Homo sapiens: one gene and its partner. The protein of the gene in region 2 interacts with the protein of the main gene of each other region in a pairwise test. Each region holds a gene or a part of one and is shown on either strand. Other genes may lie near its edges.

Evidence for each region.
Region 1: the proteins of BPNT1 (region 2) and CCP110 interact in a two-hybrid assay, tested with the Homo sapiens proteins (one study listed by IntAct).

What each region holds. Positions count from the first base shown.
Region 1 is NC_000016.10:19,547,629-19,551,554, reverse strand, and holds part of CCP110 (centriolar coiled-coil protein of 110 kDa), read right to left. Parts: intron 3,601-3,926; coding exon 3,541-3,600; intron 3,041-3,540; coding exon of another isoform or gene 2,955-3,040; intron 360-2,954; coding exon 284-359; 3' UTR 1-283.
Region 2 is NC_000001.11:220,083,129-220,087,054, reverse strand, and holds part of BPNT1 (3'(2'),5'-bisphosphate nucleotidase 1), read left to right. Parts: intron 1-3,926. UniProt on the Homo sapiens protein: Phosphatase that converts 3'(2')-phosphoadenosine 5'-phosphate (PAP) to AMP and inositol 1,4-bisphosphate (Ins(1,4)P2) to inositol 4-phosphate. Is also able to hydrolyze adenosine 3'-phosphate 5'-phosphosulfate (PAPS) to adenosine 5'-phosphosulfate (APS).

The DNA of each region.
Region 1 (3,926 bases), on a different chromosome or scaffold from region 2:
ACATTTACAAAAAGGGTCTCTGTAGACATCTGGGCATATAAAATAAACTTATGTTTGTATAGGTAAGCACAGAGATGATGCAATTACTAAACACTAATTTGTCTTCACCCAAACGTATTATTAAGAGGAAAATAGGGGTGTGGAGCAGGAATTACCAAACTGACCAAATGATCCAGATAAGTGCTCAGCCTTCTGATGTCACTTTGTCTGTGTAAACGGAGTCCAGGGTTAAATAAAGTCTTGGGCAGGGAAAATAACATGAATAATAATCCTTCCCCCCATTTTATCCTAATGAATGTTGTCTTCTTAAATTGTCGCAACATTTGGCCGCTTTCTTTGGATTTTTCCTGCATATACTCCTAAAAATAGAGCAAAACCAGTATTACTTCTCAATGGGAGGTTTTCTATAATGATACCATTTAATGAGTTTTTACTCTGGAACAAACACTGAGCTAGGCAATATACATTATCATATTTAATCCTTATATGAATCATCCTGAGGTAGAAATTGTTATGACCATTTTAAGGATAATAAAACTGAGGCATAGGAGAGCAGTTGCCTAAGGAACAGAGCTAGAAGGAAGAACTCTGATAACCCAAGTCCACCTGATGTGTTATTTTACTTAACCATTTTGCATGACCACCTCCTACTCTGCTTTGATTAGTGGTTTCTGAATTTCACTATATAAACTCTAGTCAAGCACAAAACATCAAATGAAGAAATGTGTTTTAAAACCGTAAGTCAAAGATCACTTACGATAACATCAGAGATTGCAATTTAGGTTTGTAAAACTATAAATAACTAAATGCTTTGCAGCATACTTTAACATTTTAGAATTCTACTTCAGTCTAAGAGTATGATATTCTATCATAAGAAAAGTTAGTTTTCTATAAATTGCTTAACAAAGGATTTGCCTCCATTTAGAGCAAATCAGAACATAATTTCAAATTTGTTTAAAACATAATTCAGACCATTAAAACTCTAAGCAGGAAAGAGTAATCTTTTCAAGAGCGACAGTGAGTTCCTGTGTTCAGATTCATAGTTAGCATTTTAACCAGCCAATATCCCAAACTCTCAGTTTATATAAAAGAATACAATTCTGGCTGGACGCGGTGGCTTACACCTGTAATCCCAGAGCTCTGGGAAGCCGAGGTGGGCGGATCACCTGAGGTCAGGCGTTCGAGACTAGCCTGGCCAATATGGTAAAACCCCATCTCTACTAAAAATACAATAAATTAGCTGGGCATGGTGGCACGCGCCTGTAATTCCAGCTACTTGGGAGGCTCAGGCAGAAGAATGGCTTGAACCCAGGAGGTGGAGATTGCAGTGAGCCAAGATCACACCAATGCACTCCAGCCTGGGCAACAGAACAAGACTCTGTCTCAAAAAAAAAAAAAGAACACAATTATTTAGTTTCTTTCAATTGTCTAAATATGCACTCATGTATAAGTAAATCTTTAGAAAACAACAGCAACAGACTTTTGTACTTGTTTAGATACATATTAATTCAAGGGTTAAGTTCATTTGTATTAATAAGTATGTTGCAATGCAATTTAACCTCAATAGTTCAAAATAATGAACTTCATTGTATGTTACTAACTTCAGTGACTGACTATACATCCTTTATACTGTTGAGTATTGCTGAATAAAAACAGTACTTGCTATTTTGCTTATAAGTTCACAAGTGACAAATAGTGGAGATGAAATGCATGAGAAAAGAACATGGAGAGTAGTCACTGTGGCAAATTGGTATCAGGCAAAACAATACTAATTCCTCAATGATTTTCCAACTTGCTAAGTTTCAGTGCAATATAGAATACTAACATGAGAAAAACAGAAAATGTCTTAAAATTCCACAGGTTTGGTGTTTGGTCTGAGTCCTTTCAAATGGTTATCTTTCAAACTAGCTTATTCTGACTGCCTCTGGAGTAAACAGTATCTTCAGCTATGTAATCCTTTAAGACAATTCCATTAACTGTCACTCACAATGATTTCCAAAGATGATCTTTTAAATTATCCTATATATGTGTGACACTATGAATTACCTTCACTACATACATACAAAAGGTCAGCCATCATTTCAAAGTTACGACCAATAGCTTGTTCCCTCCTAATTTGAAGGAAATCACTTAGTAATAAAGCTCTAAAATTTGCCTAATTGTATATTAATGGAAAGATTAAAATTGATTAAAGGTTTAATCTTCAATGCCTGGTGATTAATTTAGGTTTGTTGTAAATGTCTAGAAAGCAGTATAGTTAAAGCACAACATTTGGAAAGTATTTTTAAATGGATCACATAATTTTTAAGTGAGCTTAATCAAAGTGTCTTAACAAAGATACCTAAAAAATATTAAAGCATTTGGTTAAGAGCTTTGAATTTGCTCAAGAATGAGTTTGTCTTCTTGCCACCATAAACAGAATTTTAAAATACAGTTTTTAGTTTAGCTCTTAATCCTCAAATAATGAACATAAGGAGAGATTTAGCTCAAGCTTTGGACTGAGCAAAATATGAAGCCCTCCTCCCACTGGCATATTCACATGTGATCTTATAGTCTGAGGGAGAAAGTTTATCCCCTTATGTGCAGATACACTTCCCCAAGCTGAACAGACAATGCACAGACTTAGCACCAGAGATGATCGTTATCTTTTATTCATTAAATAAAAAGGTTTTCTGAATTAAGCATGGCAAATTCTACAATTTTTTCAGAATGAAAAATACAAGGTGCTTTCCACAGAAATATTATAGAAATGAAGACTGGAATCACACTTTTACTAAGACTTCCTGACTGCCATACAATGCTAAGACCAAAGAACACTAATAAGATGACTGTGAATATGCCAAAATTATGGTGGCAAGGAAAGACAATCTATTCCACTTCTATGGCCTGAGTTATGGGGCAGCTTGTGCACTTCCTTCTATTGAATGGGCTTCAGGAATTTATTTTCTACAAACCTGAAACAGGCACTCTGTTAGGCACTCTGCTCTGTGAAGGCTTCTGTCTATTTTGCACAACCCCCTTCACTGATGTCTTAGGGGTTCTAATTGAATATAAAAAAATTAATAAGTCACTGGCATTAAGGTCTAAATGTTCAAAATTCAAAGAAAGCAATCACATTGCATCAACTGTCCAAAGCACAAATAAGCTTGAAAAGAACTGAAGTCTCATGCATGCGCACAGTAAGGAAAGCTAAACTCTGGCTTCAGCAGGAGACTATAAGCACGAGTCATACTCTGTTGGAGAATCACTTCGGTGATGCTGAATTTACTATATGGATATTTAAAATACTTTATGAGTAAAATGGTATGAAATGAAAAGTAAAAACATCCCAACTTAAGACAGTAATTAGAATACACAACAGTACACCAAGAGGGTTACATTTGAAGACAAAACTTTAAAATATCTTTCCCAATGCTATAAAGAAAAAAAATCCCATTGAAAAACCATTATCCTTTACATAAAGAACACTAGATTTATTTTTCCCTCTCAAATCTAATCTTGGTTTCCGTAGTTTTCAATACCCGTGTGTGGCATTCTTACCCTTGTCTACTAAGTAGCCTATGAACAGGTGCATTCTGTCCTTGGTTTGGCTGAAGGACTCTGTTGACAAATTAAATGAAAAATTAATTTAATAGGTTAAATTCCATTTTTTCCCATTTTCTTTCAACGGATGAAAGATGATGACTGTAAGGTAAAGGTCAACTATGCAATAATATGGCCTATATATTACCACAAATCAGAGCAAATCGACTAAAGCATATTAATATGATACTTGTATTTTGCTCACTAAGAGTCCAAACCTTAGGTTTTTATCAGCAAAGAAATGTCCAACATATAGACTAACCCTTGTGCTTTTAGATAATTTTCTTATACATATGCTTTACAAAAGCTAACTTTTCCCTTCAAACCAGTGAGAGAAGAAAGTA
Region 2 (3,926 bases):
TTTTTTTTGAGACGGAGTCTTGCTCTGTCGCCCAGGCTGGAGTGCAGTGGCACCATCTCGGCTCACTGCAACCTCCGCCTCCCAAGTTCGAGCAATTCTCCTGCCTCAGCCTCCCAAGAAGTTGGGGTTACAGGCGCCCGCCAATATGCCCGGCTCATTTTTTTTTTTTTTTAAGTTTAGCAACTCAGGCCGGGCGGAGTGGCTCACACCTGTAATCTCAGCACTTTGGGAGGCAGGCGGATCACAAGGTCAGGAGTTCAAGACTAGCCTGGCCAACATGGTGAAACCCCATCTCTATTAACAGTACAAAAATTAGCCTGGCATGGTGGCTTGTGCCTGTAGTCCCAGCTACTCAAGAGGCTGAGGCAGGAGAATCGGCTGAACCCGGGAGGCGGAGGTTGCAGTGAGCCGTGATCTCGCCACTGCACTCCAGCCTGGACAACAGAGTGAGACTCTGTCTCAGAAAAACTTTAGCAACTCAGACCAGGCATGGTGGCTCATGCCTGTAATCCCAGCACCTTGGGAGGCCGAGGAGGGTGGATCACTTGAGGTCAGGTGTTCGAGACCAGCCTGGCCAATGTGGTGAAACCCCATCTCTACTAAAAATATAAAAAAATTAGCCAGGCGTGGTGATGCGTGCCTGTAGTTCCAGCTACTCAGCCATATGAGGCAGGAGAATCGCTTGAACTCTAGGGGGCGGAAGTTGCAGTGAGCCGATATCAGGCCACCGCACTTTAGCCTGGGCGACAGAGCGAGACTACATATCAAAAAAAAGAAAAAGTATTTAAAAGTTTAGCGACTGCCCTGCCATTTATGCAAAATTGAATTTCCCCCATGATTTGAAACACTACCTTTAGTGTGTTCGGTTCTATTTCTGCAATTTATTTCCTTAGTTTGTCTCACTAGCCAAACTTTTATATCATATGTTGATTAAATCATATTTTATCATATTTTGATAATTGATAAGGGGAGTACCTCTGTTCATAGTTCTTTTTCCAGAATTTGCTCCATTATGCTTACATTTTAATTTTTTCAGATGACCTTGAACATTATCATCAGGCCAAGTTCCAAAATATAAATAATTTTAGTATTTTGACTTGGAACTCATCATTTTTAGATCCTAATCCTCATATGGTCACAATCGTTATATGAGAAGAAACTAATGTTTGATTCCTGTTGTTTTTTTCCATCCTTCTGAACTAGCCCTTTGGCAGTTGTAAAGACTTCTCAAGGATAGGTATTAGGTTGATGGCCTTAAGTGTTATACAGCTTTTTTTCTTGTCTACTCTCCAAGCCTAAAGCTCAGAATGTTATGAAGAAAAGCCTGAACTATACTCTGATTGAGGGTCATGTTGATTATCATTTTGTATTCTCAAGGTCAGAATACTGTTGGAGAAACTACAGGAACTTTTTGCCCTTAACACTGCCCTAATGTCCCTGCAAAATAACCGAAATAAGGACAATCATAATAATGGTTAGCCAGTATTATTTGGTGTTTACCTTGTGCCAGGTAAAGCGCTTTCTTTACACGTGTTACTCATTTAATAATTACAGCAGCCCTATACTATGAGTACTATTGTCTCCATTTTACAGATTGGGGCACAGAGAATTTAAGTGGTTTTCTCAAGGTCCACAGCTGAGCCAGGATTTGAACACAGGTAGTGGGCTGCAGAGCCTGTGCCCTTAAGCACTGTGCTGTTTTAGATTAGGCTTTCAGAAAGACACCTTCACAAGAGTGTTTTAAGGCCCAGAAGATGTAAAACTGGTAGAGAAAGAAGTACAATGGTGTTATTTGAACTGCTTTAAGAAAGTTAACTTGCCTGTAGCTAGTTTGGGCCTTGCTCTTAATCTACCTGTATCATCAAAAGGTAAATCTCACTGTAGTATAGGAGGGAGCATAATGAAAAAGGCTAAAAGGGACCTCTTGTATAGATTTTTTGTTTTGATAATATGACTATGTATTTTTTCTTTTTTTTTTTTTAACCAAGAACCAACATTGTATTCATCTGTTTAAAAAATAGTTAAGAAAACGATTAAGGCTAGGGCATAGTACTATTTCATTACTAATTCAGTTTGGACCAGAGAAGTACTTCAAAGAAGAATGGTAAAAATATTTCCCTATCTGCCAATTAAAAGTGATTTGTGGAATCTCTTTATAAATCATTGTGTGCTTTACATCAACACTATTTTTCCCATTTTTATTGTCTTCTATTTCTTATTTTTCCCATTCTTATGTTTTATAAGCTGATGTTAGCTTTAACTGGTGGTTAATAAATATAATATCATTTTGTGAGGAAATTAGTAGACAGACAATGCCTGAAAGTTTTTCCATGGAAGAAAACACCATGGACTTGGCAAATACAAGGGGAAGTAGTTGAGTCATTTATGAAGCCTGACAAGGGTCAAATGGTTGCTTAACTGGTTCAAAGGTAAATGATATCTATGAAAAGTTATAACAACACCATACAGTGAGGGAAGGTGATCTTCCTATTACAAAAGAATTCTTATATAACATGGGAATTGAAGGAGCATACGAACACATAATTAAAATATGGTCAAGACAGCTGGGTAGAACAAATCAGTTGCCCAAAGACCACATTTCCAGTGCATAATAAATCAGATATATGTCTGGATATGGATATAAAGGAATAGAAATAAGACCAACAAAGTGTTTACTAAATTATTTCTGTTTCCTTTTCTTTTTCTTTTTCTTTTTTTTTTTGAGACAGAGCCTCGCTATGTTGCCCAGGGTGGAGTGTAGTGGCCGCAATCTCAGCTCACTGCAACCTCCACCTCCCGGGTTCATGCCATTCTCCTGCCTCAGCCTCCCGAGTAGCTGGGACTACAGGTGCCCACCACCACGCCCGACTAATTTTTTGTATTTTTAGTAGAGACTGGGTTTCACTGTGTTAGCCAGGATGGTCTCGATCTCCTGACCTCGTGATCCACCCACCTCGGCCTCCCATAGTGCTGGGATTACATGCGTGAGCCACTGCGCCCCGCCCTATTTCTCTGTTTTCTATCTGAAGTGCTCCTGAATTAGTAGTAATTGTAACTGGTTTATTCCACATGTAACTCCTAGTATGCCAAGAAAATTAATCTAGCTTGATTATGATATCATAAAACAAACACATTATATATAGTTATCCCTCCGTATATGAGGGAGGTTGATTCCAGGAACCCCTGAGAATACTTAAATCTGCACATACTCAAGTCCCACAGTTGGCCCTGCAAAACACTCATAGATGAAAACTCAGTTTTAACAGATCACAAACTCTCTTGAAACTAAAATAAAAATATATTTTAAAAAGTCAGGCTTTCCTGTCTACAGATTTTACATACCTTTTCTATCCGCATTTGGTTGGAAAAAATCCACAAAGTGGACCGGTGCAGTTCGAGGCCGTGTTGTTCAAGTGTCAGCTGCACTTAGAAACCCGTTTTATTGGCCGGGCGCGGTGGCTCACACCTGTAATCCCAGCACTTTGCGAGGCCGAGGCGAGTGGATCATGAGGTTAGATCGAGACCATCCTGGCTAACATGGTGAAACCCCATCTGTACTAAAACTACAAAAAATTAGCCGGGCGCAGTGGCGGGTGCCTGTAGTCCCAGCTACTCGGGAGGCTGAAGCAGGATAATGGTGTGAACCCGGGAGACGGAGTTTGTAGTGAGCCGAGATCGCGCCAGCCTGGGCGATAGAGCGAGACTCCATCTCAAAAAAAAAAAAGAGAAACCCGTTTAATTTTCATCTTAATTTCCAGACAGCTATTGGTCACAGTACGGTATTCATTACCTTACATAAATTTCTTTTTTTTTTTTTTGAGATGGAGTCTTGCTCTGTCGCCCAGGCTGGAGTGCACTGGCACGATCTCGGCCCACTGCAATCTACACCTCCTGGGTTCATGTGATTCTCCTGCCTCAGCCTCCTG